Homo sapiens: one gene and its partners. The protein of the gene in region 3 purifies or fractionates together with the protein of the main gene of each other region. This does not show direct contact. Each region holds a gene or a part of one and is shown on either strand. Other genes may lie near its edges. The genes, in order: RBM25, NEURL4, NKAP, LCN1, CSNK2A2, TOPORS and AQR.

What was found.
Region 1: the proteins of NKAP (region 3) and RBM25 purify together in Homo sapiens (affinity purification with mass spectrometry; one large-scale study listed by BioGRID and IntAct). This does not show direct contact.
Region 2: the proteins of NKAP (region 3) and NEURL4 purify together in Homo sapiens (co-immunoprecipitation; one large-scale study listed by IntAct). This does not show direct contact.
Region 4: the proteins of NKAP (region 3) and LCN1 purify together in Homo sapiens (affinity purification with mass spectrometry; one large-scale study listed by BioGRID and IntAct). This does not show direct contact.
Region 5: the proteins of NKAP (region 3) and CSNK2A2 purify together in Homo sapiens (affinity purification with mass spectrometry; 7 studies listed by BioGRID and IntAct, with this or other methods). This does not show direct contact.
Region 6: the proteins of NKAP (region 3) and TOPORS purify together in Homo sapiens (affinity purification with mass spectrometry; one large-scale study listed by BioGRID and IntAct). This does not show direct contact.
Region 7: the proteins of NKAP (region 3) and AQR purify together in Homo sapiens (affinity purification with mass spectrometry; one large-scale study listed by BioGRID and IntAct). This does not show direct contact.

The regions. Positions count from the first base shown.
Region 1 is NC_000014.9:73,064,532-73,069,129, reverse strand, and holds part of RBM25 (RNA-binding protein 25), read right to left. Parts: intron 4,159-4,598; exon of another isoform or gene 4,037-4,158; intron 1-4,036. UniProt on the Homo sapiens protein: RNA-binding protein that acts as a regulator of alternative pre-mRNA splicing. Involved in apoptotic cell death through the regulation of the apoptotic factor BCL2L1 isoform expression.
Region 2 is NC_000017.11:7,322,458-7,327,055, reverse strand, and holds part of NEURL4 (neuralized-like protein 4), read left to right. Parts: intron 1-46; coding exon 47-345; intron 346-507; coding exon 508-619; intron 620-712; coding exon 713-801; intron 802-1,342; coding exon 1,343-1,415; intron 1,416-1,582; coding exon 1,583-1,847; intron 1,848-2,075; coding exon 2,076-2,257; intron 2,258-2,575; coding exon 2,576-2,661; intron 2,662-2,785; coding exon 2,786-2,948; intron 2,949-3,043; coding exon 3,044-3,242; intron 3,243-3,332; coding exon 3,333-3,409; intron 3,410-3,492; coding exon 3,493-3,571; intron 3,572-3,932; coding exon 3,933-4,108; intron 4,109-4,189; coding exon 4,190-4,321; intron 4,322-4,598. UniProt on the Homo sapiens protein: Promotes CCP110 ubiquitination and proteasome-dependent degradation. By counteracting accumulation of CP110, maintains normal centriolar homeostasis and preventing formation of ectopic microtubular organizing centers.
Region 3 is NC_000023.11:119,923,462-119,927,349, reverse strand, and holds part of NKAP (NF-kappa-B-activating protein), read left to right. Parts: intron 1-1,955; coding exon 1,956-2,130; 3' UTR 2,131-3,888. UniProt on the Homo sapiens protein: Acts as a transcriptional repressor. Plays a role as a transcriptional corepressor of the Notch-mediated signaling required for T-cell development. Also involved in the TNF and IL-1 induced NF-kappa-B activation.
Region 4 is NC_000009.12:135,524,096-135,527,794, reverse strand, and holds the end of LCN1 (lipocalin-1 isoform 1 precursor), read right to left. Parts: exon of another isoform or gene 3,293-3,699; coding exon of another isoform or gene 2,966-3,292; coding exon 2,864-2,965; coding exon of another isoform or gene 2,688-2,863; exon of another isoform or gene 2,664-2,687; coding exon 2,638-2,663; coding exon of another isoform or gene 2,637-2,637; intron 1,452-2,636; coding exon of another isoform or gene 1,278-1,451; 3' UTR 1,255-1,277; downstream 1-1,254. UniProt on the Homo sapiens protein: Could play a role in taste reception. Could be necessary for the concentration and delivery of sapid molecules in the gustatory system.
Region 5 is NC_000016.10:58,166,522-58,171,119, forward strand, and holds part of CSNK2A2 (casein kinase II subunit alpha'), read right to left. Parts: exon of another isoform or gene 3,949-4,598; coding exon of another isoform or gene 3,844-3,948; intron 2,173-3,843; coding exon 2,089-2,172; intron 1,275-2,088; coding exon 1,164-1,274; intron 788-1,163; coding exon 686-787; intron 164-685; coding exon 63-163; intron 1-62.
Region 6 is NC_000009.12:32,542,516-32,547,113, forward strand, and holds part of TOPORS (E3 ubiquitin-protein ligase Topors), read right to left. Parts: intron 1,812-4,598; coding exon 1-1,811. UniProt on the Homo sapiens protein: Functions as an E3 ubiquitin-protein ligase and as an E3 SUMO1-protein ligase. Probable tumor suppressor involved in cell growth, cell proliferation and apoptosis that regulates p53/TP53 stability through ubiquitin-dependent degradation.
Region 7 is NC_000015.10:34,906,938-34,911,535, forward strand, and holds part of AQR (RNA helicase aquarius), read right to left. Parts: intron 3,377-4,598; coding exon 3,198-3,376; intron 1-3,197.

The DNA of each region.
Region 1 (4,598 bases), on a different chromosome or scaffold from region 3:
GAGTTCTAGACCAGCCTGGCCAACATGGTGAAACCCCATCTCTACTAAAAATACATAAATCAGCCAAGTGTGGTAGCACATGTCTGTAATCCCAGCTACTCGGGAGGCTGAGGCAAGAGAATCACTTGAACCCAGGGTGCGGAGTTTGCACTGAGCTGAGATCGTGCCACTACACTCCAGCCTGGGTGACAGAGTCTGTCTAAAAAAATAAAAAATAAAAATAAAGTCTTATTCCACCTTTATAATGCAGTAAATTGGCTGGGCGTGGTGGCTCACGCTCATAATCCCAGCACTTTGGGAGGCCGAGGTGGGTGGATCACAAGGTCAAGAGATTGAGACCATCCTGGCCAGCATGGTGAAACCCCATCTCTACTAAAAATACAAAAATTAGGAGAGGGGGTGGCTGCAGTAATGAGAGGCTGGTGCTGCAGCTCTTTTCCTGCAGTCCAGCCAAGGAAGCGTGCGTCCCTGGCGCTTCCTTCTCTTTGGACAGAGAGCTTGGGATGTGGTAATGCCAGCCAGACTTCTCAGAGCCATGGTCAGATCTACCGTACACTGGCAAAAGCACATCAGTGCCAAAGAATTGGTCATCTAATGTTAAAACCACTAAAGGAATTTGAAAATACAACATGCGGCACACTGACAATACGTCAAAACTTGGATTTGTTCCTTCCTGATAATACAGCTGGTAGTCTGAATAAGTCTCAGATCCTGTAAATGAACCAAAAAAAAAAAAAAAAAATCAAATACAAGCATTGTCTCTCCATTAAATGCTGCTCACTGCCAAGACGAAAAGGCACACCTTCCAACCATGAAATCCTTTGGTACTCACAAGAGAGTGACCCACAAACCAAATCTATTGGGGTCTAAATGGTTTATAAAAATATTAAAGAGGCATTTCTCATCTGTATCAATGGAAACATTTGTTCCAAAACAAGGCTTTCCACATATCAAGAGACCACTAAAGCATCCAGGACCAAGCAGCCATCTAGGACCAACCTTCCAGTTCTGTCTGTGAACGAGGTAAAGTTGGGGTGGTCGTAGCTCATGTGCTTAGTGATCACTGCTCACGCTAAACCAGTGTGCGCTGCACCCCAGCCTTACCGCCAACTTAAGAAACTGGCAGTCAACTCAGACTGCTCCATCAAGATCTTTGAAGCCTAATAAATATCCAAAGAGATTCAAAATCTTAATTTTTAAGAATTAATGATACATATAAAAACAAAATACAGGCCGGGCGCGGTGGCTCACACCTGTAATCCCAGCACTTTGGGAGGCCGAAGCGGGTGGATCACGAGGTCAGGACATCGAGACCACGGTGAAACCCCGTCTCTACTAAAAATACAAAAAAAAAAAAAATTAGCTGGGTGCGGTGGCAGGCGCCTGTAGTCCCAGCTACTAGGGAGGCTGAGGCAGGAGAATGGCGTGAACCTGGGAGGCGGAGCTTGCAGTGAGCCAAGATCGCGCCACTGCACTCCAGCCTGGGCAACAGAGCGAGACTCTGTTTCAAAAAAAAAAAAAAAAATACAGGCAATAAAACATGAAAAAAATACAAAAATTATCCAGGCGTGGTGGCACATGCCTGTAGTCCCAGCTCTTGGGAGGCTAAGGCAGGAGAATTGCTTGAACCCGGGAGGTGGAGGCTGCAGTGACCCGAGATCAAGCCACTGCACTCCAGCCTGGTGACAGAGCAAGACTGCCTCAAAAATAATAAAATAATAATAATGCAGTAAATTATTATAATACGGACATATTTATTTAACCAACATTAACAGTTGGCTCCACTTTCAGCTCTCACAAATAATGTTGAACATTCCTGGAGATAATAGACATATAACTGTATGCATCTGTACAGGTAATTCTCTAATACAGGTTAGAACTATATGTATCTGATTAGCTGGGTGTGATGGCAGGTGCCTGTAGTCCCAGCTACTCAGGAGGCTGAGGCAGGAGAATCGCTTGAACCTGGGAGGCGGAGGTTGCAGTGAGCCGAGACGGTGCCATTGCACGTCAGCCTGGGCGACAGAGCAAGAATCCACATCAAAAAAAAAAAAAAAAAAAATTATATGTATCCAAACTTTACCTCCAAAATCATCCCTGAAAACTAGCATATAAATGTATATTCCCACCACCAGAATATGGGTATGCCCTTTCCTCATATCCTCATCATTGGTAGAATAGATCAGTGTCAAAATTCTCACAATTTCATAAGTAAAATATACTCTTATTTCAATTTACATTTCCCTCATGACTAATGAGGTTGAGTATGCGTTTACCTGTTTACTAGACATTTCTTTAAAACAGAAAAGCATGACCTACATGCTCACAGCTCTACTTCCTCAGAATTCCTTTGACTTAAATTGGGATAATACCATATTCAATAAAACTAAACTTCAATTTCAGAAAACACAGTATACTTAAAATATTTAGAAAACTTTATAGGTAAAGGAATCCCTAGGATGCATTTTTTTTTTTTTTTTTTTGAGATGGAGTCTTGCTCTGTCACCCAGGAGTGCAGAGGCACCATCTCAGCTCACTGAAACCTCCGCCTGTCGGGTTCAAGCGATTCTCCTGCCTCAGCCTCCCAAGTAGCTAGGATTACAGGTGCACACCACAAGGCACGCACGACCAAGCTCAGCTAATTTTTGTATTTTTAGTAGAGACGGGGTTTCACCATGTATGGCCAGGCTGGTCTCAAACTCCTGGCCTCAAGTGATCCGTCGGCCTCGGCCTCCCAAAGTGCTGGGATTACAGGTATAAGCCACTGCGCCCAGCCCTTAGGAGGATTTAATATACTTGGCAAATGAGGTATTAGAAATGTTTTAAACAGTAGGTAGGTTATCAGTACATATTAACAATGAAAAACACAAGATTGCAAGACTGTAAATGTGTTGAGTTTTAAAATAAACTTTCTGTAAAACTTTTTGACCAAAACCAAAAACTGGGGGTGGTATCTCTTTTTAAAACAGAAAGGGCTACTGTCCTACTTACAGAAGCTCTTCTATTATCATTATAATAGCCTATCTCAGTGCTTTCTTAGGATAGTTGGTTTTCATACCTGTTGAATAAACTGATTAATGAATAAATCAGTAAACAAACTCTGAGGACTTCAATAAACAAATTTATTATGCTATCTCATGCCGCATACTATATTCTAGCAATGGCCCAGTGCCTAGCCTCACAATGGTTACAAGACTGGGCCATGAACTCATTTTTAAAACCACTTTTCCCCCAATAATATTAGATATAAATAATGCTTAAAAACTAAAACTCTCGGTCAGGGGCGGTGGCTCACACCTGTAATCCCAGCACTTTGGGAGGCCAAGGCGGGCAGATCACTGGAGGTCAGGAGTTCGAGACCAGCCTGGCCAAAATGGTGAAACCCCTGTCTCCACTAAAAATATAAACACTGGGCTGGGTGAGGTGGCTCATGCCTGTAATCCCAGCACTTTGGGAGGCCAAGGCAGGCAGATCACAAGGTCAGGAGATCAAGACCATCCTGGCCAACACGGCGAAACCCCGTATCTAATACAAAAAGTTATCCAGGCATGGTAGTGTGCGCCTGTAGTCCCAGCTACTCAGGAGGCTGAGGCAGGGGAATTGCTTGAACCTGGGTGGCAGGGGTTGCAGTGAGCCAAGACTGCGCCACTGCACTCCACCTTGGCGACAGAGCAAGACTCAGTTTCAAAAAAAAAAAAAATTAGCTGGGCACAGTGGCTCACCCCTGTAATCCCAGCACTTTGGGAGGCCGAGGCAGACCGATCACTTGAGGTCAGGAGTTGGAGACCAGCCCGGCCAACATGGTGAAACCCCGTCTCTACTAAAATACAAAAACTAGCTGGGTGTGGTGGCGGGTGCCTGTAATCCCAGCTACTCAAGAGGCAAAGGCAGGAGATCACTTGAACTCGGGAGGCCGAGGTTGCAGTGAGCCGAGATCGCGCCACTGCACTCTAGCCTGGGTGACACAGTGAGACTCTGTCTCAAAAGAAAACAAACAAACAAACAAACAAAATTAGCCAGGTGTGGTGGTGCGCACCTGTAATCCCAGCTACTCTGGAAGGTGAGGCAGGAGAATTGCTTGAACCTGGGAGGCAGATGTTGCAGTGAGCCGAGGTCGCGCCACTGCACTCCAACCTGAACGACAGAGTAAGACTCCGTCTAAAAAAAAAAAAAAAGTAAAACTCTATATTCTTGGTATTTAAGTTATATTTTATGGTTTTTAAATGTGTAATTCATTCTGCAGAGTTAACCAGATATATTTAATTTTCGTTTATGCCAATATACCCATTCCATTCACTTCAAATTTTTCCATAACATATTCCCCTTTATTTGGAGCTGCCAAAACTTGCTTGTTGATAGGCTGGACTTCAAAGGTGAAGGCAAAAATACCAGTTAACAGCTAATTTTTATGGATATTCCTTTAAGATAACTGGCCTCTCCTGGGCGCGGTGGCTCACATCTGTAATCCCAGCACTTTGGGAGGCTGAGGCGGGCGGATCACAAGGTCAGGAGTTCGAGGCCAGACTGGCCAACATGGTGAAAGCCCGTCTCTATTAAAAATACAAAAATTAGCCAGGAATGGTGGTAGGCGCCCGTAG
Region 2 (4,598 bases), on a different chromosome or scaffold from region 3:
CCTCATCCCAACTTCCGAGCTTCCTTCTTCCATCCTGCTGCTATAGACTTTGCCAACATGGAGCTGTCTGAGGTGGTGAGCAACACCATCCTGTCTGCCTACAATGGAGGGCTCCTGAATGTGAACCTGAGCTCCCCACCGGCAGGGGAAGGCCTGGGATCTAGCGGTGCTGCCACCTCGCCCATTCTCACTTCCAACGATGCCCTGCTCTTTCATGAAAAGTGCGGGACCCTCATCAAACTCAGCAACAATAATAAGACGGCTGAGCGCCGGCGGCCCCTGGATGAATTCAACAATGGGGTTGTCATGACCAATCGCCCCCTTCGGGACAATGAGATGTTTGAGGTGTGCAAAGTCCTGTGGTCTGGTTGGCGCCTTATCCCTGGGAGCTAAAGATGGGGATTGACCCTTGGTGCTAGGAGGGTGGGCCCTGGGGAAGAACCAAGGGCTGAAGGTCCCTTTCTGCATTTACATTCCCTGCTTCTCCCTTCTGTCCCTCAATGCCAGATCCGTATCGACAAGCTTGTTGATAAGTGGTCAGGCTCCATTGAGATTGGGGTCACCACCCACAACCCCAACAGTTTGGAGTACCCAGCCACCATGACCAACCTCCAGTCAGGTACCAGCCCCGGGCAGGGGCGGGGGTGCAGGCCTGGTGTTGCTGAGGGGAAGGAAGCCCCGTACCCGAACCCAAGTGTCCACTATCACCCAGGCACCATCATGATGAGCGGCTGTGGAATCCTGACCAATGGCAAGGGCACCCGCCGGGAGTACTGCGAATTCAGTCTGGATGAGTTGCAGGTGAGGGTGGGGCACAGATCCCTGGGCCGCTTTCAGCAGAGCCACAGGTACTCTGTGTCCCTGCCAGGGCACCAAGCAGGGTCTCCTATGTGACCTAGAGGCAGTCCCTGTATCTTCCACCTAAAGGTTCCTTCCTAGAAGCCTGAGTTGCCCAAGAGTTCAGCACTCAGATTTTGGAGTCAGATGGTTGAATTCCTCTTACTGTTTTCCCATTTGTAGTAGCGAACCGGGGCAAGAAGCTTATCCTCTTTGATTGCTCCCCCACCTCCTGCAATCTCTAAAATGAGCCTACGAGTAGTACTTATTCCATAGGCTGAGACTTGTAGAAGCTAATGTCTGTGAGGTGGTTTAACTCAGTGCCTGACTCACGTGGAGCATTGACGAAATGTGGAAATTGTCATGTCTGGAAAACAAGGACCCAGGACCTGTCCTCCAGGGTGGTCTGAGACTCTCACGAATACCTTCTGGAGTTGTTCCTGTGTGGAGTGGGGTGCTGAGCAGGCCTCAGGACTCCTCTAAACTGTTTGTCTTCTTTGATTAGGAGGGTGACCACATTGGCCTCACAAGGAAGTCCAACTCTGCCCTACACTTCTTCATTAATGGTATCGATCAGGGTAAGGGCCGCCCAGAGAGAGCCTCTGGGCCGGGGCTTTCGGTGGGGCTGGGACTGGGGGCTGTACCTCATCCTCCTGCTTCTCTTTGGTGCTTGGCCTCCCTGTGTTTGACTTTCTCCCCTCATTCTCCCTGTCCACTCCCACACCCCCGTACCTTCCTGCCACAGGAGTGGCAACCCCCTTGACGCCCCCAGTGGTGTATGGTGTGGTGGACTTGTACGGGATGGCAGTGAAGGTGACCATCGTCCACAATAACAACCACAGTGACCGTCTCCGCCGAAACAACGCCATCCTGCGGGCGCTGTCCCCCGAGGGTGCTCTCCGCCGTGCTGCCCCTGCCGCCCAGGCAGAACCTGAGCGCCTGCTCTTCCACCCCAACTGTGGGCAGAAGGCAGCCATCACCCACGAGGGACGCACTGCCCTGAGGCCCCAGTATGGCCCATGGGGTGGGGAGAAGCCTGAAGAAGGGATTCTAATGGGGGGGGGGGGGCGGGGCAAGGAAGTGGAAGGCAGAGGGAGCCTGGCGGGGGCAGCTTCCTGGAGGTTGAGCTTTAGTTCTTTGGCTTGGGGCAGTGAGTGTTGGCAGGCATTGCTGGGCTAAGCCTTGGCACATTGAGAGCGTGTGTTGGGGATCTGACTCTCCACTTGCTGTGCCCTCAGTGCCACCGATGACTTCAATCACGGCGTGGTGCTGAGCAGCAGAGCCCTGCGGGATGGAGAGGTGTTCCAGGTGCGCATCGACAAGATGGTGGACAAATGGGCTGGCTCCATTGAAATTGGTGTCACCACCCACAACCCTGCCTACCTCCAGTTGCCCTCCACCATGACCAACTTGCGCTCTGGTGAGCTCCCAGGAAGGGCAGGGACAGGATAGGGTTTTGGGGGGAAGCTATCCCCAAAGCCCTGGCACTTGTTCTGCAGCTCCTTTTTCACTTGTCACTCTTGTGACCACTCATTCAGTGGCTAGAGAGTGTCCCGTGGGCAGGGCTGTGGCTGTCTTGGAAGCTGCAGAGTTTTCTTGTCCTGCTCAGGGAAGAAATCTAGTCATCAAAGAAAAGGCAAGGTGGACTGTGGGCTCGGGAGTCCTGTGGGCGCTGCTGTGGCAAGGAGAGGAGCCCTGCATTTCCCCTCATGTCCCCTCCTGCTCCTTGTCCTCCCAGGGACCTGGATGATGACTGGGAATGGGGTGATGCACAATGGGACGACCATCCTGGATGAATACGGGCACAATCTGGACCGCCTCAAGGTGGGAAAGTGGGTGCGCCGCCTGGCGGCCGCAGCGGGCATCACAAACACCGCGGGGCTGATGCAGGACCAGCCCCGGCAGGAACTCTGCCTGACTCCTCACTCCAGCACCCCCTTCTTCCAAGGCAGGGGACACGGTGGGCGTGGTACGGCGGGAGGACGGGACTCTCCACTTCTTTGTCAATGGGATGACTCAGGGCCCTGCTGCCTGGAACGTGCCCCCGGGCGTCTATGCTGTCGTCGATCTCTATGGCCAGGCGGCCCAGGCCACCATTGTGGACGACGTGGGTGAGGGCCGGGCTGGGCTGGGGCTGGGGGTTAGGGTGGCCTTGGGAGGTCTGAGAGACACCTAGAGACCTGATGGGTGATGTCCACTTTTACAGAGGTGGCTCCAGTTCCTGAACCACTCCCTGAGGGGAACAACCAGGTGTCTCCAAGCTCTCCGTCCTCAGGGGCCGGGGGCTCTGACCTGCGCTTCCATCAGCTGCACGGCAGTAACGCAGTCATCACTAACGGGGGCCGCACCGCCCTCCGCCACAACTGTCGCAGCGAGTTTAATGACGCCATCGTCATCTCCAACCGGTCAGTCTCTCAACTTTCATGTCCCCACCTTCCTCCTGCCCAGCCTCAGCCATGCAAGTAGAGCCTCTCTGATCGCCAGTCTCCTGGCAGGGCCCTGCGGGATGGAGAGCTGTTTGAAATTGTCATTCAGAAGATGGTGGACCGCTGGTCAGGCTCCATTGAGGCTGGTGAGGGCCGTCTGTGTGTGTTGGGGGCTGTTGGATGTCTGTGCCTTGGGGATCGGCCTTGACTTACCCCTGCCTCCTCCCAGGAGTGACTGCTATTCGGCCTGAAGACCTGGAATTCCCCAACACCATGACAGACATTGACTATGACACATGGATGCTGAGGTTGGGCTTCCTGCTTTGGGGACCAGCTTGGGGCTGAGTGGAGCTGGCTGGGATCAGGGAAGCAAGGTTTGGGCCTATGGTGGCTGTGGGTAGTGACAGACCTAGGGGATCTACCTGTCCCCTCCCCTTGAATTCTGGGAAGTCCTGCCCAGGCCCACAGGGGCTCAGTCCTCCTTCATCTTAGGCAGTTCTTGCTTTTTCCTAAGGGGATCCCAGGGACAGAGGAGATAGGATTGGGCCTTACACCCAGATCAAGACACCAGCCCAAGACATTGGAGGGTTCTGACAGACAGGGAGTGGGCAGGGGCCAATGTGAAGTTGAAGTTGGCAGGCTGACTCACCCCTTCTGCCATCCCCCCAGTGGTACAGCCATCATGCAAGACGGTAACACGATGCGCAACAATTATGGGTGTGACCTGGATGCGCTGGGCACAGGTGCACGCATTGGCATGATGCGAACTGCCAAGGGCGACCTGCACTACTTCATCAACGGCCAGGACCAAGGCGCTGCCTGCTCGGGCCTGCCTCCGGGTAAAGGTGACTATGTGGCTTTCAGCCTGCCACCCTCAGCCCAGACCACCTGGCTGTCAGGCTTCTGACCTTCCCTCTCCTCCCCAGAGGTGTATGCGGTAGTCGATCTCTATGGCCAGTGTGTCCAAGTGTCCATCACCAATGCCACCGGCCCCATGGACAACAGCCTGGCGACCAGCAACACTGCCACCGAGAAGTCCTTCCCACTGCACTCCCCAGGTGCGGCAGCAGGGCGGGGGCTGGACGGGCTCTGCTTGCCTGCTGTGCACCTGAGGAGTAGGGTTTCCAGGTTAGAGAGGTTCTGCAAAGACGGTTGGCTGGGGTAGCTGCCGGCTCCAGGGAAGGGACAGCCCACGGTGGCAAGCAGCCAGTGAGGGGGAGGTTACACCTGGTACTTAGAGCCTGGACACTTCCCTGCCACCAAGGGGCCAGGACACCATAAGCTGAGCATGCCAGGTTTGGAAATGGGCCTTGCTGTGGTGAAAAGAGGTATCAG
Region 3 (3,888 bases):
AATAAAATTCAGAGCCCAAAGATAACCATACACGTATGGAACTTCAGTGTATGAAAGAGATAGCATGTCAGATCAATGGGGAAAGAAAGAACTATTCAGTACATGAAATAGGAGGCTGAGGCAGGAGAATCGGTTGAACCTGGGAGGCGGAGGTTGCAATAAGCCGAGATTATGCCACTGCACTCCAGCCTGGGTGACAGAGGGAGACTTGGAAGTTAAATCCACTGATAAAAACTGCTGTTCAATTACAGATTTAGACTTGGTTCTTTTTTTTTTTTTTTTTTTTTTGAGACCTAGTTTCACTCTTGTCTCCCAGGCTGGAGTACAGTGGCGCAATCTCAGCTCACTGCAACCTCCACCTCCTGGGTTCAAATGATTCTCCTGCCTCAGCCTCCCAAGTAGCTGGGATTACGGGTGCCCACCACCACACCCAGCTAATTTTTGTATTTTTAGCAGAGACGAGGTTTCACCACGTTGGCCAGGCTGGTCTTAAACTCCTGACCTCAGGTGACCTGCCTGCCTCAGCCTCCAAAAGTGCTGAGATTACAGGCGTGAGCCACCATGCCCAGCCTAGACTTGGTTCTTTTGGTTTTATGGTAAAGTAGAACCTTGAAGGAAGTTCCATCTGATTAATGACTAGTTAAATGTTTTATCTATCCTACTTCCAATTCCACAAAGGCAAATGGATATGTCACCTAGGAAGTTTAATAATTTGCCCATTTCTGATTGTTTTACTGGAAACAAATTAGACGTATACCCTTAGTATTTGAAATTAATGATAGCGGCCAGGCATGGTGGCTCACACCTGTAATCCCAGCACTTTGGGAGGCCAAGGCAGGTGGATCACCTGAGGTCAGGAGTTCGAAACCAGCATGGCCAACATGGCGAAACCCCATCTCTACTAAAAATACAAAAATTAGTCGGGCGTGGTGGCACACACCTGTACTCCCGGCTACTCGGGAGGCTGAGGCAGGGGAATCACTTGAGCCCAGGAGGCAGAGGTCGCAGTGAGCCAAGATTGTGCCACTGCACTCCAGCCTTGGTGACAGAGCCAGACTTTAAGACTCACAAAAAGGAGAAAAGAAAAAAGGATAGGCCAGGCGCGGTGGCTCACGCCTGTAATCCCAGCACTTTGGGAGGCCGAGGTGGGTGGATCATGAGGTCAGGAGATCGAGACCATCCTGGCTAACAAGGTGAAACCCCGTCTCTACTAAAAATACAAAAAATTAGCCGGGCGCGGTGGCGGGCGCCTGTAGTCCCAGCTACTGGGGAGGCTGAGGCAGGAGAATGGCGTGAACCCGGGAAGCGGAGCTTGCAGTGAGCCGAGATTGCGCCACTGCAGTCCGCAGTCCGGCCTGGGCGACAGAGCGAGACTCCGTCTCAAAAAAAAAAAAAAAAAAAATTAAAAAAAAAAAAAAAAGAAAAAAGGATAACATTTACTATGTTGACAGGAAATCAGAGATCATTATTTGAATAGTGGAAATGAATCAAAGACATATCAGGGCCGGGCACGGTGGCTCACGCCTGTAATCTCAGCACTTTGGGAGGCTGAGACAGGCGGATTACTTGAGGTCAGGAGTTCGAGATCAGCCTAGCCAACATGGTGAAACCCCATCTCTACTAAAAATGCAAAAATTAGCCAGACCTGTTATCTCAGCTACTCAGGAGGCTGAGATGGGGGAATTGCTTGAGCCAGGGAGGTGGAAGTTGCAGTGAGCCGAGATCGTGCCACTGCATTCCAACCTAGGCAACAGAGCAAGACTCCATCTCAAAACAAAACAAAAAAAAAGGACGTGTCAGGCAGCTAAAATATTAATAAATGATCTTTTGGAAATTTAACCCATTTCAATTTTTGTCAGCTGTTAAATAGACCACTCTGGGTAAGAAAGGATTAATGATGATGTACTATGAAAATAATTACTGAGAAATTAAGCCAAAAATAAAATTCTCTCCAGGCATCGCCGAATGGAGGCTGTGCGACTGCGAAAAGAGAACCAGATCTACAGTGCTGATGAGAAGAGAGCCCTTGCATCCTTTAACCAAGAAGAGAGACGAAAGAGAGAGAACAAGATTCTGGCCAGTTTTCGAGAAATGGTTTACAGAAAGACCAAAGGGAAGGATGACAAATAAAGATTTTCTGATTGTCCAGAAGACATTTTTAACAACAAAAAAGAAAGTCTGGGTTCCACACATACATAGAAAAAGATTATTATGTTCTGAGAAAGCTTTACAGTGCTACTGTGCCTTCTATTTAATTCTTTCAGTCCTTCAATAAAAAGCTGCTTATTGATATAACTTTAGCAAGTTCTTTGGGTTATTTTGGATTGACCATAGTAACTTTCTGGTTTAAAAATCCAAATTATGGGCTGGGCACGGTTGCTCACGCCTGTAATCCCAGCACTTTGGGAGGCTGAGGCGGGTGGATCACTTGAGGCCAGGAGTTCGAGACCAGCCTGGCCAACATGGTGAAACCCTGTCCCTACTGAAAATACAAAATCAGCCAGGAGTGGTGGCGCACACCTGTAGTCCCAGCTACTCGAGAGGAAGAGGCAGGAGAATTGCTTGAACCTAGGAGGTGGAGGTTGCAGTGAGCCGAGATTGTGCCACTGCACTCCAGCCTGGGCGACAAAGCAAGACTGTGTCTCAGAAAAAAATAAAAGGCCAGGCACGGTGGCTCACGCCTGTAATCCCAGCACTTTGGGAGGCCAAGGCGGGTGGATCACCTGAGGTCAGGAGTCGAGACCAGCCTGGCCAACATGGTGAAACCCTGTCTCTACCAAAAAATACAAAAATTAGCCGGGCGTGGTGGTGGGCGCCTGTAATCCCAACTACTCGGGAGGCTGAGGCAGGAGAATTGCTTGAATCCAGGAGGCGGAGGTTGCAGTGAGCCGAGATTGTGACATTGCACTCCAGCCTGGGCAAGAAGAGTGAAACTCTGTCTCAAAAAAAAAAAATCCAAATTATGAATAAAATGCTACTGTATTGGAGGAGGTGGCTTGAACAAAAAGTGTTAGTGAGATGAGAAACTTCAATCTCACACCATGAGACAGTGCTACTATTAGCTCTATGTGATGCCTGCCCCACCCCGACCTCTACCCCAGCTGAACTTTTGGGAAATTATCACTCCTCTGTGTTGAATGTGTTATAAATGGACTTGATAGGAACATATAGGAGGCCACTTTTGTTAACAAAATGAAGGCATTGCTGCGAAAAGCAAATCTGGAATTTGAAAACTGACTTGTGTACTATAATATATGATCTACCCTGGAAATAATGGGTTTTGATTTAAGTCCCTACCTCCACTCTAAAACCAACAAACAAACCAAAAAGCAAACTAACCCACAGATTTGTTGAATTGAAAATGTGAACATTAGATATTTTAAATTGTTTTTTTTGAGATGGAATCTCGCTCTTGTTGCCCAGGCTGGAGTACAATGGGGTGATCTCGGCTCACCACAACCTCCACCTCCTAAGTTCAAGCAGTTCTCCTGCCTCAGCCTCCTGAGTAGCTGGGATTACAGGCATGTGCCACCATGCCTGGCTAATTTTGTATTTTTAGTAGAGATGGGGTTTCTCCATGTTGGTCAGGCTGGTCTCGAACTCCCAACCCCAGGTGATCCGCCCGCCTTGGCCTCCCAAAGTGCTGGGATTACAGGCATGAGCCACTGCGTCCAGCCTAAATTCTTAATAAGTTACTTAAAAATAGTTATTTGAAATATAAAGTCTTAAGAAGTCTACTCTTATCCCCATGTAAATACTTTATTTCAATCTGAGCTGATATGAGCTTGAGGATAGGATAACATCCAAAAGAATAGGAGTCAACTATGGTCAAGAGTTTTGATAAGGAAAAATATAATGAGTCAGTATTTTAGCTTAATTGTTTCATAA
Region 4 (3,699 bases), on a different chromosome or scaffold from region 3:
CTACGGCATGAGGGAGAGCCTCGACCTCCTGGGCTCAAGCAATCCTCCCACCTCAGCCTCCCGAGTACCTGGGACTACAGGGTTGCGCCACCAAGCCTGGCTAATTTTTTTTTTTTTTTAGAGATGGGGTCTCGCTATGTTGCCCAGGCTGGTCTCCAACTCCTGGCTTCAAGTGATTCTCTCACCTCAGCCTCCCAGAGTGCTGGGAACACAGGCCTGAGCCACCATGCCTGGCCAGAATCGAGCACTGAGGCCTGGTTAGGGGCCGGCCCCTTCCTGAGCAGCTGATTGGTCCACACGGCAGCCCTGCGCTAATCAGACGGCCCCACTGGGGGGCCGCTCCCCACCAGCCCTCATTGCTCCAAAGCCAGGTACCAGACAACCAGGGACAGCCCCTAAGCCCTGGAGCAGAGAAATGACCCATGTTAGCTGGCCACAGGCAGCCGGGTCACCCGCTACACTTTCTGCTCCCTACCCTGAGCTCTGCAGGCTGTTGTCCTGTCCCAGGCTCAAGCCACCCCGTGTGGCCCTGCCTGGCAACTGCCCTCTCCTGCGGAGCAGCAAGTCACTAAGAGTCTGCCTCTCCTCGCTCCCAGCGTCACTGTGCGATGTTGCGCCATCGAAAGAAACTTTAAATCCTACAGACCGCCAGGGTCAGGAAAGGCGCCTGTGCCAGGTGGGACCTCTGGTGGCTGCCCCCAAGCTGGGAACTTGCTGTCCCAAACCTACCCAGGCACAGAGAGGGACAGCGTGGAGCCAGGCTCTGGGGGCAGTGCTGGTGTGGCTCCCCGGAGGACAGGACTGGCTTCCCCGGTGAGCTCAAGCCCGAGCCACACCCTGCCTTGAGCTGCTGTCCCCTCCCCCCACGTCCAGCCTCACGGACTCAGCATCAGTGCTGAGGGCACTGGTGGCTCTGCCCAGTCCCCTCTGGGTGGCAGCTGCGCTTGGTCCCAGGCCTTCCGGTCTTACTTGTGCAGGACCGAGGAGTGGAGCCCTGCCCCCACCCCCGCAACCCCTACAGCCTGAGCTCAGCGGGCGGCTGACCTGCAGGAAGCACCCCGGGACCTTCAGGCCCAGCCTCCAGCACACACCCCCCTGCTAGGCCCCTCCCACTGTTGGCCTGTGGCACCCACCAGGGAGAACTGGGTCCAGGCTGGTTCCCTGTCCTTCCTCCTGCTTCCCACCCAGTCCCTGCACCCAAAAGAGCACCCAGCCAGCACCTCTCACCCCGAGGGACCCCACAGACAGGCGGAGTCACTGGGAACTGCTGAAGCTCTTTATGGAGAACCAGGAGAGGGGGCGCAGGGCAGGGGGAAGGCGGGGGGTGGTAGGAAGGGGTGCAGCCAGCCGCGTTCTGCAGGGGTGGGGAGCTTTTTCCATGTCCCTGTGAATGACGGAGGTGCTGGATGGTGCCGTCCTTGGGCTGCTGAGGAGCCAAGGTGTCCCCTGCCCTGGAAAGGGGGGGAGGGTGAGTGAGGCCAGGACAGCAAGGGTGGGAGGGGGATGCAATGTGGGGGCGCATGTGGGCTCTTGGGTGCTGCAGTGTGGGGGCCCATGTGAGCTCTCAGGGGCATGGTGTGGGGGGCACACGCTGCACTCTTGGGGGCTGTGATGTGGAGGGCACATGCAGGCTCTCGGGGGCTATGGTGTGGGGGGCACAGCAGGCTCTCAGGGGTGATGGTGTGGGGGGCACATGTGGGCTCTCAGGGGCATGGTGTGGGGGGCACATGTGGGCTCTCGGGGGCTATGGTGTGTGGGCACATGTGGGCTCTCGGGGGCTATGGTGGGGGTACACACTGGGCTCTTGAGGGTTACGGTGGAAGGCACATGCGGGCTCTCGGGGGCGATGGTTGCGGGGGCACGTGCTGGATCTCAGAGGCAATGGTGTGGGGGACGTGCACCGGGCTCTAGGGGGCTATGGTGTGGTGGGCACATGCGAGCTCTTGGGGGCGATGGTGTGGGGGGCACACACGGACTCTTGGGGGCTGCAGGTGGGGGCTCCAGCCTCTAGATTGGAGCGGATGGAGCAGGGACCACCCCCGCAGGCTGCTGACAGAGCTCCCTGCTGAGTGAAGTGGCATCAGGGTGACTGCAGGCCAAGGGGAGGGTGCGGGAAGGACAGCGATGCTGTCCAGGATTCTGGCTCTGCCCACACCTGGGCAGGTGACCTTGGGCGAGTCTCCAAACTCTGGTCCCCTTGTGCAGCCAGCAAGGGGCCCATCTGACACAGCGAGCACAGGCACGCCTGCCACTTTGCTGAATCTTTGAGCAACTTATCGGGTAAGTGGAGTCACAGGCATGGCCGAGGGTGAGGGGTGCTGAGGAGGAACCCGAATCTCCTGCCTGCTCCTGCCCATGTGACTGGGGGGTAGACACCGTCTCCACCAGCAGCCAGCAAAGGCGGGCTCAGCGCTGTGGGCTTCCCAGCTGCCCAGGAGTCACACCCAGGGCAAGAACGGAGTCTGACGCCCGAGCGTGGGCAGCTCAGGAGCAGAGCTCCCACCTGCCTGACCTACGTGGGGCATCTCCCACCCAGGTAGGAGTGGGATGGGTGGGAGAGACCCCATGGCCTCTGGAAGCACCACTGAGCCCCAGAACTGGATTTTCTCAAATGTCCTCTAAAGCTGTTCACTCACCCTAATCGCTCCCTGGAGAGCAGGTTTCTGCAGGAAAAGGAAGCACAGGCGTTAGGAGACCCCAGGAATGCAGTCAGGACCGGGGCCCCTCATCAGCCACCAGCTCCACCACCCCAGGAAGGACAAAGCCAGAATTAGACGCAGCACAGTTATGCGCCCGTGCAATGCAGCTCTGCTGATGTCCCCACGCGGGGACATGGGGGGCTCTGCAGGGCCATGCCTCCTACCGCTCTGCCTGGGGATGAGGATGCTCTCCGTGCTGAGTCCGCGGGCTCCTGCGGCTTTCTCAAAGTCCTCCAAGGCTTCCAGGTTGTTCTTGGGGTCTCTGCCTGTGGGTGCCAGGACGAGATGTGGGTGCTCGAGGCAGCACTGGGCCGACGGCACCCCATCCCAGTCTGGAGGCCTGAGCTGGGCTGGGGAAGGGGACCTCGCCCACCGTGGGGGGAATTGAACCCAGAGGCCCTCAGGCTGGCAAAGTGGGACCAGGGTGCCGTGCACGGCTGAGAAGGCTCCTGTGGCAGCAGAACCGGGAGAACGGGAAGGGCTCTCCATCCATCCCTGAGCATCTCCCGGAGTGAGGATGGACGGCACGACAGGCCCACCCTGGAGGAAGCGCCTCTCCCCTTGGGGGCACCAGGATCCCAATCCTCTGTCATTCGCACACCCCTGGCTCCAGGGAGAACTCAGGAGCCTTCATGGGCCTCGTCCTCTGACAGGGACAGCACTGATGAGTCACCATCTGTGGGAGGCACCGCGTCCGGAATTCAACCCCGGGAGCTGGAACGTTCTTTCCATGCAGACTTCTGCTCACATCCCTGTTCCTCTCTCCTGCTGGACACCCCACAGGAACGCGCTCAAGGATGACACTGCAGGGAGCTGCTCCGGGGGAGGGCCTGGCCCACTCTGGGACATGTGTGACCTTTGAACCCCTGTGCCTGCAGCCGTGGCTCCTTCCTGCCTCTGCTGCAGATACCGAGGCCGGGGCATCCCAAATCCTGAACTCCAGGGGTGGGAATTGAGGCCTTTATCAGGAAAACTCATCCTAAGAAAACTGCAGTGGGTT
Region 5 (4,598 bases), on a different chromosome or scaffold from region 3:
GCTAACCTTTCCACTTCTGAAACGGGGTAAGGTAAAGCACTCTCTCTCTCTCTCTTACTTACTGTCCCAGGATATCGTTGAAGTGTGGATCTAGGTCTATGTGATACTTCTTCAGATACCCATACAGTTCTTCTGTACCCAGAACCTTGGCAATGCGAACAAGCTGAAACACAAAACAAACTGACCAAATCACTGAGCACAGAACACACCATGAGCCCGTGAGGACACTGCACCAAGGAATCAGAAGACTTCCACACCACTAAACCTCTAGGAACGAGATACAAACCCAGGTCCAGGGCAGGCAGACAGACCCAAGGACAAGAAGTTCACATGAATGCAAATTTCCAAACGGCCTTTAAAATAATACAACTTACGATAATAATCTTCTAGAGGTGGACCAGTACAGGGCATCACAATCTAATGACTAAAATCTAGTTTTATTAGACAAGGAGGTGCCTGACTTCTTCACAGATTCACTTTGGAAGTTTGGCATAGATGGCATTATCTGCCTCTACTTCTGCGGACCTGGTAAACACAAAATTCTGTGCGATCTTTATCTTGAAGAAAAGCTCATATGCAGACACTGAGTGATACTTAGTGGCTCAAGGATAGTATTCTTATCTAAGGATGCTATTTTTTTGGCATTCACCCCCAAATAAATAAGAACCAGAAAGCATTTGCTCACCTGGTCATAGTTGTCCTGTCCATGGAAGAATGGTTCCCTTCGAAAGATCATGCTTGCTAACATACAGCCCAAACTCCACATGTCCAAGCTATAATCATACATCTGAGGCAATAAGGACAACGCATTAGCCAAGGGTATTAGAAATCCATTTTTCTGATATAAATTTCTTTTTTAGACGAGATTGGGCGTGTTCAGGGTGGTATGGCCATAGATAATTTATTTAAAAAAAATTTTTTTTAACTTCCTGGCTCCTAGAAATGATCTGAATTTCTAGTCTTCATTTAACCTTTGCAGATATTTTAGATTTAAAAACTTCTCTGTCCCCCCAAAAAACTAGCTGAGAAAAAACTAAAATCAGCATTTTAGGGTGAAATAATGGCTGGGTTTTGAGTGTATTCAAACTGACTAGATCAACAGCAAACCAGAAAAGCCCTAAGCAAGTATAAATAACCCAGAATAGCTCTGCTAACAAGTTTACCTGATAGTCCACGAGGAGCTCTGGTCCCTTGAAGTACCTTGAGGCTACACGAACATTGTACTCCTGAGCAGGATGATAGAATTCTGCCAGACCCCAATCTATCAGTCGCAGCTACAAATAGGACAGAAAAAAACATGTGAAAGGAGTGTTTCTAGACGCCTATGCCTTAGAACAAGGCCACATCACATTAGGTAACAATCATTTGGCCACACAAAAAATGTGAGCAGGTGCACTGGCTTAAAAATTACATTTTCAGCAATCGTGCAAGAGGTCATTTTTAGAGCAGAACACTTGAAATGCTTTTTGAAAAAATTTTAAATTATCCTGGTTCATCCCTCTCTCTAGATCAACAGAGCTCAACCTTTTTTTCTGCCCACATTCAGAAACTGTAGGCAGTTACACTTGGTAACACATTCTCCCATCATTCATAGCTTTTCGTTATAAGCTCCAGGCGTCAGTGAAAGGGCTGGGGACACACATCCCACTCCAGGACTGAAGCATTGCTCTAATGATTTATTCGTCTAATACTAGATGATCCATTTACTCACTGATTAGGGCCAACAGAGTTGGATATCAAAAATAGGAGGGACCCAAGTGTTCTTTTAAGGCCAGGCAGATTGGTCTGCGGGTCATCAAGAAATGAAGCAGAAACCACCAGCTGTAATTTCTTTCTGAGGCCCTCCAGAAAACTATGACCAAAATAAACAAGTGACTATAGTTAGTTACTATAGTTAAACCGTCTACTTTCCTTGTGTACTACACTATACAAAGTAGAAATCAACAATGGAGATGGGAGAAATCACAGTAACGAAAGTTTGCCAAAAAACCCACCACGGGTCTACAGAAACCATCATGGCACTGGACAGCTTTTTGGTCTGCTCTAAGCCTTTTAATCAAGCTTGTTGCTGCCTGGCTGTAATGGTACCTTTTTCTGTTGGTGATCTATCATGACATTGTGAGGTTTCACATCCCTGTGCATGATTCCCTTGCTGTGGCAGTAATCCAGAGCCTATTAGGTAAGAAAGCACAGATAATAGTAAGCAACCCCTCTACCATCCCCCAACGCAAGCATAGTCTTATTGTTTGTGACACCTTGACTTGAATACAGTCCCCCAACGGGCAGCTTGCTGCCTGTAATGAAAGAGAAAAAAAGCGTGCTTCAGAAGGCACCCCTTGCTCTCTCTGCACACTACAGCTGGTAGAAAGGGGGTATGAAGGGAATGGCAAGGGCTATGAGGAAGATTTCTTTTTTTTTTTTTTGAGATGGAGTCTTGCTCTGTCGCCCAGGCTGGAGTGCAGTGGTGCAATCTCGGCTCACTGCAAGCTCTGCCTCCCGGGTTCACGCCCTTCTCCTGCCTCAGCCTCCCGAGTAGCTAGGACTACAAGTGCCTGCCACTACGCCCAGCTAATTTTCTGTATTTTTAGTAGAGACAGGGTTTCACCGTGTTAGCCAGGATGGTTTCAATCTCCTGACCTCGTGATCCGCCAGCCTCGGCCTCCCAAGGTACTGGGATTACAGGTGTGAGCCACTGTGCCCAGCCGAGGAAGATTTCTTTAAAAGAGGGGGTGATGAGGCCAGGCACAGTGACTCATGCCTGTAATCCTAGCACTTTGGGAGGCCGAGGCAGGTGGATCACTTGAGGTCAGGAGTTCGAGACTAGCCTGGGCAACACGGCTATACTAAAAATACAAAAGTTAGCTGGGCGTGGTGGTGCGTGCCTGTAATCCCAGCCACTCGACTGGGCTGAGGCTGGAGAACTGCTTGAACCTGGGAGGTGGAGGCTGCAGTGAGCTGAGATGGTGCCACTGCACTCCAGCCTGGGCAAGAAAGGCGGGCAGTGGGGAGGGGGGTGTGTGTGTGGGATGATAAACCAGACTTTGGAACCTCACTGGAGTCACCTCTCATAATGGTTCAAAGGACAGACCAGCATCTATGTGGACATGAAGAATGACATTCAAATACATCTTTCAGTATGGCTTATTTTGTACATAAGGGTCCCACGTGGGTTTTCTAGATGACCAAGTATTAGTATTTTCCTTAATATAATCCCTGAGCCAGCTAGCCTTTAAGACTTATCATTATAAGGCCAGGCATGGTGCTCATGCCTGTAATCCCAGAACTTTCGGAGGCAGGCAGATCACTTCAGGTCAGGAGTTCAAGACCAGCCTGGCCAACATGGCGAAACTCCACCTCTACTAAAAATACAAAAAATTAGCCAGGCAAGGTGGTGGGCACCTCTAGTCCCAGCTACTTGTGGGGCTAAGGCACGAGAATTGCCTGAACCTGAGAGGCGGAGGTTGCAGTGAGCCGAGATGGCACCATTGCACTTCAGCCTGGGCAACAAAGCGGGTCTCAAAAAAAAAACAATTATCATTACATATTATTCCAAGGGAGAAAATTGCTTTGTTTAAGATGATTGATATGCAGATAAGATTTTATGTATATAATGGTTTTTCACAAATTTAAAAAGCTGTGCAACCATTACCACAATCCAGTTTTAGAACATCTCCATCACTCCTAAAATTTTTCTTGAGCTTGTCTGTAGTCAATCCCCTTTCCTAACTTCTCCCAACCCCTCCGTGCCCTGCCCACAACCACTGACCTGCTATTTGCTGGTATAGATTTGCCTTTTCTGTACATTCATAATATGAAATCATACATGTATAGTGCTTTGTCTACCTTCTTTCCTTCAGTATACTGTTTCTGAGATTCATCCAAGTTGTTTTTCCTTGCTGAGTAGTATTCCACTACTAGCTGATGGACATTTGGGTTGTTTCCACTCATGCTTTCATTTCCCTTGGGTAGATTCCTAGGGGTGGAAGTGCTGGGTTGTATGCTAAATTTGTGTTTAAACTTTTAAGAAACTGCCTAATTATCTTCCAAAGTGGCTGCGTCACTTTTACTCCCACCAGCAACCTGAGGGTTCAAGTTTCTCCACATTCTCATCAACACCTGTCATTGTTCAACTTTTTGATTATAGCTTTGCTGGTGGGTGTAAAGTGGTATCTCCATGTGGTTTTGATTTTTATTTCCATAATGAGTGATGAAGTGGAACTTCTTTTTATGTGTCTACCGGCCATTCTAAATCTTCTTTGGAGAAATGCTGATTCAAATCTTTCAATCATTTATTAGATTGTTAAGCTCCATTTTTTTAATGTAAAAATTTGCTTCTAAATCTCCCTTGCCTAACATAATAACTATCTTCATAAACTTCAAATTCAGGACCTTTGGCTAATCTTAACAAGCACCTGAATCCTACACAAGGTCAATGAAATACTCTTCAAGTAGAATCCCTGTCCTCTACCTACCACTAGAGCCCCCCTCCAGTTTTAACAACCAAAAATGGTTCCAGATTTTGCCCAATGTCCCCTGGGGGACAAGCTTGACCTGGATAAGAAGCAATAAACTAGACTCTTGAGGACACTTGAATGGAC
Region 6 (4,598 bases), on a different chromosome or scaffold from region 3:
GATCTGCTTGTGCTTTCACTACTTAGAGACAGAGTTTGGCTTCTTCTGGACCAACTGCTATCTCTAGTTCTTGATCTCTTTTTGTCTCTTCTCCCTCTAGGTCTGCTACTTTCCCTGCTTCTGGATCGTTTACTTTTCATTCTTTTCTTCCCATGATGCTTTCTATGATTCTTCTGATCATGCCCACTTCTACTCTGAGAACGTGAATCTGAACTTCTTGATCTTCCCCTCTTTCTGTGTCTATGGTTATATGGAGAATATACTCTGTCTCCTCTTACAGATGAGTTCAGGTTTCTGGGAGATGACAATGATGTAGATCGTTTCTCTTCCTTCTTTGATTTGATTCTTGTACTAGAATCACAATGACCTTTATTTATTTGTTCATCCTTTCCAAGGACAGAGTGTGGAGATGAGCATCTACTAACATCGCTATCACCAGAACTGTAAGATTGCTCCTGTTCTTGTGTCTTCACTGTCTCCATTTTCTCATAAGAACCTAAGTCCTCAGAATCAGAGGACAGTTCAACAAGTTCTGGGGTCCTCTCAGCTAGTGGTTTAACAAACCCAACAATGACACAATTATCTGAAGAATCATCACTGTCATTATTTAGGTCGTCATTGGTTTGTACTCCTTGTATCTGAGACGTGGCTCCTCCTGTGACAAGTTCTTCATCTGAACTGTCAGAAGTATTTAAAAGAGAAGACATAGTAACGTGTACCTGCTCTGAGCTTGAGTAAGATGGTCCTGGAGTTTCATCATCCCATGGTGCCTGACTAACAGTGGCTACATTAATATCCAGCTCTTGGGTCTCAGCCTCATCTGGAGATATTGTTATGACTGAAGAATCAGAATGGCTGCCTTCTTCGTATGAAGGAGCAGGGCAATCATAATTGGCATGCTGGTCAAAGGCTGCCATGTTAAAAGGAGATCGGGCAAAACTGATAAATTCATGTATAAAATGCTCAGTTCGATTAAGTAAAAATGGTCTTAAATCAGACACAAATGCCTGACTCTCCAAGTCATAGCGAGTAACATTACTCATGATAATATGCTGGACAATATTCACTAAAGATCCATGAGCTCCAAAAAGAACTGTAAGTTCACGTTTTAACCAGGGGACTAATCTGTGAAGGCAAGCTGGATTTCTACGGAAAAATTCAGCTGAAATATCCCTGTAGCGGCCACCATCTTCAATATTTCTAACTCGAGCACCAGCACGATAAAGAGTTCGTCTAAAATTAATAATATCTTGTTCTTGAATTTTCCGCAAAGATCTTTCATCTGCCGTAGTTGGCCTCCTTACTGCAATCTGTCTCATAAACTGAGGAATTTCAACATCTCTAGGTCTTGTTGAAATGCCTAACCCTTCAAACAGTACTCCACTATCCGGTGGAGTTGTTGTTCTTCTGTTCACAGGACCACTAGGTGAATACACAGAAGCATTTCGTTCCCTTGTCAGAGTTGTACGGTAGCGAAATCGTCGATCAGGGGTGACAAAAGAACCATTATACGAAGGCCTTAGGACATACTCCTTGAAGTCATCTTCTGCCCTCACAGAATGGAAAATAGAATCAAAGGGCTGTTTACATAGTGGGCATTCAGCTTTGTTTTTTGACCACTCCTGTACACAGCGAAAACAGAACTTATGTAAGCAGCGATCTAAGTAAGACACATTATCAAATCTATCCAAGCATATAGGACACTTAGAATCAGGAGATGCATCAGCTGGTACTGTCTGTTGCAATTTGCTAGTGCCAGCTTTAGGTGAAAAGTTGTCCATTTTAAATTCCTTAGCAGCTGATGCCATTATCTGTAAAAGGGAAAGAAATATATCAGTAACCTGATAATAGAGGAATGACTAAATAGTCTCAACAAAAATGCAAATAAAGACCTTGAAACTTATTTTGGTGAAAATACTTAAGTGACCCATTACTTTTGTTTTATTTTATAAAGGGGCACTGTAGCATAGTAATATAGTGCTTAAAGCATAAGCTCTGAAGTCAGATTTCCTAAGACTGAATCCTGGTTCCACACTACCAGCGTGACTATGTGCCAGTTAGTATCTCTGTGCTTTAATTTCATCTGCAGGTCAGTGATAACAGAATCTGCCTTACAGGGTTTGTGAAGATGTAAAAAGCCCTTAGAAAAGGCACCTGCTACATAGTAAAGCTCTCAAATATTATGTAACATTCTATTATTCTTTTTAAAAATAATTTGAGAAATATCTGACATATAAAAAAAAAAAGTACCAAATACCCATGTATCCACCACTTATGTTATGCCCCTTATCTTCCCCTCCTATCACTCTCTAGAAAACAAAAAACAAAAACACCACACTCCTCAGTTGATGTTATTTCTATGCATGGCTTTATACCTTTCATATACATATGCCACTAACAATACAGACTACTGATTTATCTGTGATATTTTGTATGTACTTTTCTAAAACAACTTTGGTGACATAACTTACATACCAGAAAGTTCACCTGTTTAAACCAATCCTATGATTTTTAGTGAAAGATTCTTTTTTCAACCTTAGAAAGCTAATTTTAAAAAGGGAGAGGAAACTTTTAGTGAAGATTAAATAATAAATGAAAAAGCAGCCAAGAGGCAGTGCCTGGCTCACAGTAGGTGCTGAGTAAATGTCAGCTGTTATTATTACTACACTATTATATTCAGTTAATCACTCATTCCATTCAGCATTCCTAATAAGCCTTCCTTTAGCTTTTTTCTTTAATCCAAAAGTCAGGCCACAGAATATCTTGAAATCATGTTTTTGGTCCCCTTCCCTATTATCCTTTCCCATAAGGATGACTAGAATATTAAAGATTAGTTTGTTTTATCAGTTTACATTGGCTCAAAACTTTGCTAGAGCTTGAAATCTAGTATGCGTTTTGACTTTATCTCATAAACTCCAAAGCTGCATTTTATACTAATCATTTTGAGTATATTGACTATTGGGGAGTCAGGCGCGGTGGCTCATGCCTGTAATCCAGCACTTTGGGAGGCCAAGGCAGGCAGATCACCTGAGGTCAGGAGTTCAAGACCAGCCTGGCCAACGTTGTGAAACCTTGTCTCTACTAAGAATACAAAAATTAGCCGGGCATGGTGGCAGGCACCTGTAATCCCAGCTACTTGGGAGGCTGAGACAGGAGAATCGCTTGAACCCAGGAGGCAGAGGTTGCAGTGAGCTGAGACTGCACCATTGCAGTGGGTGACAAGAGTGAAACTCTGTCTCAAAACAAATAAACAAACAACAACAAAAAACTACTAGGCCCTTGGTTTCCCAGGGCCTAATATTCATCTTCCTCCACCTCCTTTATCACAGGAGGTTCCATCACTAGTCAACTGGGGTCAAGTTAATCAAATAACAGAATTGTAATTTTCTAAATAGACTCATTGGCCTTAACAAACTATAAGAAAAACCAATAAACAAAACCCACAACAAAAACTCATGACTGAAATACAAGTATTCCACCATAGCTTTCATATTAAACCTGCTCACTTTAGGGCATCTTGGCTTTCTCAGAACCATAACTTAATAGAGAATCAATTAATGCTAAATAAGCGTTTCTTCAGGGGTCCAGGTATGTCTAGTCTTCTATTTACTGGACTGAAAATGCAAAAACATCATCACTGTCCTGGAAGGTCTGGAAAAGCAGGATTATAAATACATAATACTGCTTTTTTGTTCATAAACAGTCTAAAACCCTAATACTGCACAACCTTCTCAGCATTTCCCTCTACTTTTAACATTTTTTAATCTGCCTACTCAAGAAATTTAAAGAAACACACACATAAAAATAAAAACCTTTCAGTTCAGAGACTGTGTGTGTGGTAGAGGGAAGGAACAGAGAAAAGTTGGGAGGGAATCAAAGAGGTTATCAAAAGATCTGGACTGAAGACCAGGCTTCACCTAGAACTAGCTCTAGTTAATGTGAAGAAAACCACATTACTCTAGACTTTAGTTTTCTCCTCTATATAATGAAGGGATTACTGGACTTGGAAAAAAGACCCGTGAATTCCAAGTTAATACATTTTATCTTCACTTAGTTCTCTGAAATAGAATTTTAGTGTTTTCTGAACACTTCCAGTTCACATAAAAATTACAGCTGAAAATGAATTTATTAAAGGGAATTATTAGGTAGTAAACTTGAAGTTCAAATAAAATAAAATCTCAACAAAGTATGATTTTTTTAAAAAAATGAAACCTTACCCTTCCCTTCTCTAGTTTTATAAGCCTGTTAACCACTTTGACAGTAAAAGGTGAATGAATGACTGGTAATGTCCTCCATAACAGGTTAAAAAATAATAATAAATTAGAATTCATTCTTGTATTTCTACACAGGAATCATTAGCTGAAAAGAATAATCTTAGCCGGGCATGATGGGCACACCTGTAGTCCCAGCTACTCAGGAGGCTGAGGCAGGAGGATTAACTGAGCCTGGGAGGTCCAGGCTGCAGTGAGCCATAATTGCACCACCTCACTCCAGCCTGGGTGACAGAATGAGACCCTGTTTCAAAACAAACAAACAAACAAACAAACAGTCTTCATCAGAAACATCAAAGAGGCGGGGCACGGTGGCTCACGCCTGTA
Region 7 (4,598 bases), on a different chromosome or scaffold from region 3:
AGAAACATTCATGCCATGAATATATTACTGAATAAGCCCTCCAAGTCATGCTACAGCTCCAAAATTGGATGTTCGTCATCATTCTTATTTTTAACAATCTTAATAAGTAACCAAAAATATGGCTGGCATATAATCCATCTATAGCATATTTAGCAGGTTTTTAATATCAGTTTAAACTATCTATCAGTGTCATTCCAAAGACAGCCTAATTGTATTTCACTAAAACAGGTCAACTCAAGAATAATTAATCAAGGCAAAAAAGTATTGTTTACAGGTATGATCTTGAGAAAGATGGCTGAATATATACAGTTTCAGTTGGCAAATCGTGAACATTTTTATAAGTGAATGTCAAGAAAAAGGAGACTTGTGCCAGAGTCCACAGCTTCTTGGTCACTAGACCCAATAAAGAACTCAAATGGCTTCCCAGCTCTATTAAAAGTAGAGAAACTGGAAGACAAGGATTATAAAATTAGACCTCACAGCATGTAATGCTACACCACTTAATCTTCATTCCATTTCTGATGTTTTTGTTAGCCATTACATGACATAAATGTAAATGTAAACAGTCTGCTTGCTCACAACCTTGTTAACAACAAACACAATGAAATCAAATCAACAATGTGGGCATATGGCTAATAGTACTGAAAATATTTTGGTTTGTTTTAATTGGGGGACTGGTTAGAGTATGGGTAAAGGTAGAAATAATAACTCTATTCATAATACTGACTTAATTATTTCCCAATAAATTCTATGCAAAGCAGCAAGAGAAGTAATGAGAATGAATGGGAATCATCCTACTCTCTGAGTTGTACTACCTGTGTGATGTCTGATCTGCACAGCTCATTAAAACTTCTAAGTCTTACAGCCAAAGAAGTGGTCCTGAGAAGTCATTTATCCTCTCCCAAGATAGGAGTTACTTTTTGGCATCACTGAGGGATGACCTCTTGTTCCTTCCTAAAACAAACCACTTTACTCTGGGACATCTTAGATCCACATTTTTTAAAATCCTATATGTCTCTCTCCTTGCAACCATTTGTATCCACCCTATCCTAGCTGTGCTTTCTGGAGCAAATCTGGCATTTCCATTTCATGAATTCTGTTTCCTTAACTTTAAATGAGAATATTGAAGAAGATAAGGGCTTGAGGTTCACACCTTTTCAAAGGGACAAAAGGAATGTTTTATGGTATTTAGTTTAATAATCTTTAAAATTTACTTTTATAAAACAATATTCAGCTGGGCACGGTGGCTCACGCCTGTAATCCCAGCACTTTAGGAAGCTGAGGCAGGTGGATCACAAGACCAGCCTGGCCAAGATGGTGAAACCCCGTCTCTACTAAAAATACAAAAAATTAGCTGGGCGTGGTGGCGGGTGCCTGTAATCCCAGCTACTCGGGAGGCTGAGGCAGAGAATTGTTTGAACCCAGGAGGTGGAGGTTGCAGTGAGCCGAGATTGTGCCACTGCCCTCCAGACTGGGCGACAGAGTGAGACTCCGTCTAAAAAAAAAAAAAATGTATTATTGTTTACAGAATCTCTCCTTTTTACTCCATTTTCTATTTGGCTACCCTATCTGTGATCAATATAGGGGCTGGTTTTTGGCCCAGGCCTCCCATAAAACACTTTTCTCTCCATCATACCCCAGATTATCACTCATCCCACAATACCCTATTGTGCCCTATCTTGCCCATCAAAATGTACCCTGTCCAGTTCTCATTCTACCAGAGGCTGATGTTTAAAAGAAAAAAAGACTGTCTCATGTCCTTCTGAAAGCAGTCAGTAATGGGGGAAGTGGCCTGTTTTTAAACATCCTTTTGTTTTCCTTAACACCAAAATGCAGACCTCTCATCTATAAATTCCTATAGAGTCCTTTAAAATAAACAAAATTCCAACTATCTACTACTTCTGGGGGTACCCAGTAAGTTATCTCAGTTTATTACCCACAGTGTTTAATATCTCCTTAAGCTTCAAGGAATAATAAATATGAGACCTTCTCCAGCAACTTAATGGCTTTCTCGAGGCTCAGCAATAATAAAGGTGCACATTAGTCTAGATGAGTAATATACCAGGATGGAACTCTTTTGAAGGATACAAGGGTTATAAAACAATCTGTCATAAACTATACCCGCTACAGTAGGCATTTGTTAAACATTTGGCTAGCTTTGTTGCTGGATTCCTTCAGAATTCTTTGATATAGTTCCCATGATTATAAACAGCTACACTGGTAGTAATAATTTCTGAAAACAGATCCATTAAGGGACATCCTTTCCTTCTGGCATGCCAAGAAGGTAAAAGGAGGTAAAACCTACTGACTACTGTTTCTCAAAACAGGGCTTTAAGTAAGACCTCTCACAGGACAGCTGGGAGAAAAATATAAAACTGCCTATTAGAAATCAGTTCATATGTCACTTCTGGCAGAGGTCTTATTGATGTTTTAACTCTATTGGACTTAGTAATTTTGAACATATCTGCCTCCAAAACAAATTAATTTTGACATGGAACTCTAATCCTTAAAATCTTGCCTAGCAAAAATAGGAGGAATAACTCCTTTAATTTCTTTGCAATTATTATATATCCTTGACTACATTTGACTTCACTGACTCTTTATCCTTTCTGCCTTAGGCGCAAATAAACTATTATTTATTTCTGAATTGTTTCACTATAGCCCTGCCCACCCCCACATATTCTTTTTAAGCTTGCCTAATTTTTATTTTCCACAAAGTGTATGTATTTCTATTTTTTTCACCTTGGCTACTTTTATCTTTTGAAAAATACCAATTTTCCTTACTGCTCTGCATGTTTGTATGTTATATGTGGGCTTTCTCCCTGCTCTTTGGTGAACACTAATATTTTTATTCTTTTATATTGATGCCAGAAATCCATAAATATTATTTTGCTAAATTTAAGACTTAAAATGCTCTCCTCTAGGCTTTGCAAACTTCAGTTTTCAAAACGTTGATATGTATGCAATTTTATACTTTTTATTAAAGTATTAAGATACCTAAATATTCTTGTATGATCCCTGGTATTTTTAAAACTAATAATTAGAAAAAAAGTTGCTATTCTTTAAATCAAATTTCAAGGATAACGCTTAATAAAAGCTTTAAAGGATAACATTTAGTAAAAGTACTTTGTTAATGCTCTAAGTGAAAGTTCATAACAAGGCAAAAGGTAATGTCACTTTTTGAAATACAAACTTACCTTCCCATTCATCTTTGATGTGATCTCTGACATTGAGATTTATGGTAACATCTGCACGAACTCGGGTTGGCCAGTTTTCACCTATGTTGGGTTTGGCCACTTCAACGACAGTGAAAGCCACAATGGGCTGGGCCATTCGCGCCCAACCACCAAACACTACACCGCCATATTCAGATTGCCTGAAACCAAAGAAATGGATGATTACTCAAACAAAAAATAATTTATCCCCAACTTTTAGACAAGTTAAAACTAGTAAGTAGGAATACTGTTCAGCTAGTATTTAAGTCCTAATATTAGTAACTCTTATTTCTTAACTTAAAAAAAAGAAAACCTTTAACTCTCAAAGTATGCAAAGTATATAAGATAGCATGAAACAGGGATATGATAGCATGAAACAGGCAAACATGGTCCAGAAAAGAAAGAGAAGTAGAGGAATATCTCCTCTCCAACCTAAGAAAAAAGCTAACCCTATGTACATAAGAGCATTCTGGGGCTGAGCCATTTTATCAAAGAAATAAATAATCCAGCACACTTAGTTTTATTTCAGCTTTATTGACGTATACTTGACAAATAAAAATTGTATATAGTTAAGGAATACAATGTGATGTTTTAAACTATGTATACACTGTGATATCATTACCAACACAGTTAGCATTTTTTGTGTGTGTGGTAAGAATACTTAAGATCTATCCTGTCAAGTTTCAAGTACATAAAACATTAATTATAGTCACTATACTTTACATTAGATCTCCAAACTTATGTATCTTGTAACTGAAAGTTTAGACCCTTTGACCAACATGACCCCATTTTCCCCACCTACAACCTGATAACTGCCCTTCTACTGCTTCTATGAATTTGCCTTTTTTAGATTCCATATGTAAAGTGAGATAATCAGTTTTTGTCTATCTGTATCTGGCTTAATACATTTAGCATAATGTACTCCTGGTTTATCCATGTTGTCAAAAAAAGGATTTCCTTCTTTTTAAAAGGTGAATCATATCCCATTGTGTGTTTTTATATATGTACACACACACCACATTTTCACATTTTCTTTATCCATTCAGCCCTTAAGTTGTTTCCACATCTTGGTTATTGTGAATAATGCTGCAATGAACACAAGAGTGCAGACATCTCTTTGGGACAGTGATTTTATTTCCTTTGGATAAACATTCAGAAGTGGGTTTGCTGGATCATATGATAGCTCTGTTTTTTAATTTTTTGAGGAACCTCCATACTGCTTTCCATAATGGCTGCACTAATTGACATTCCCACCAATAGTGTATAAGAGTTCCCTTTTCTCCACATCCTTGCAAACACTTGTTATCTTTTGACTTTTGATAACAGCCATTCTAACAGGTGTGAGGTTTGAATATCTCATTGTGGTTTTGGTATGCATTCCCT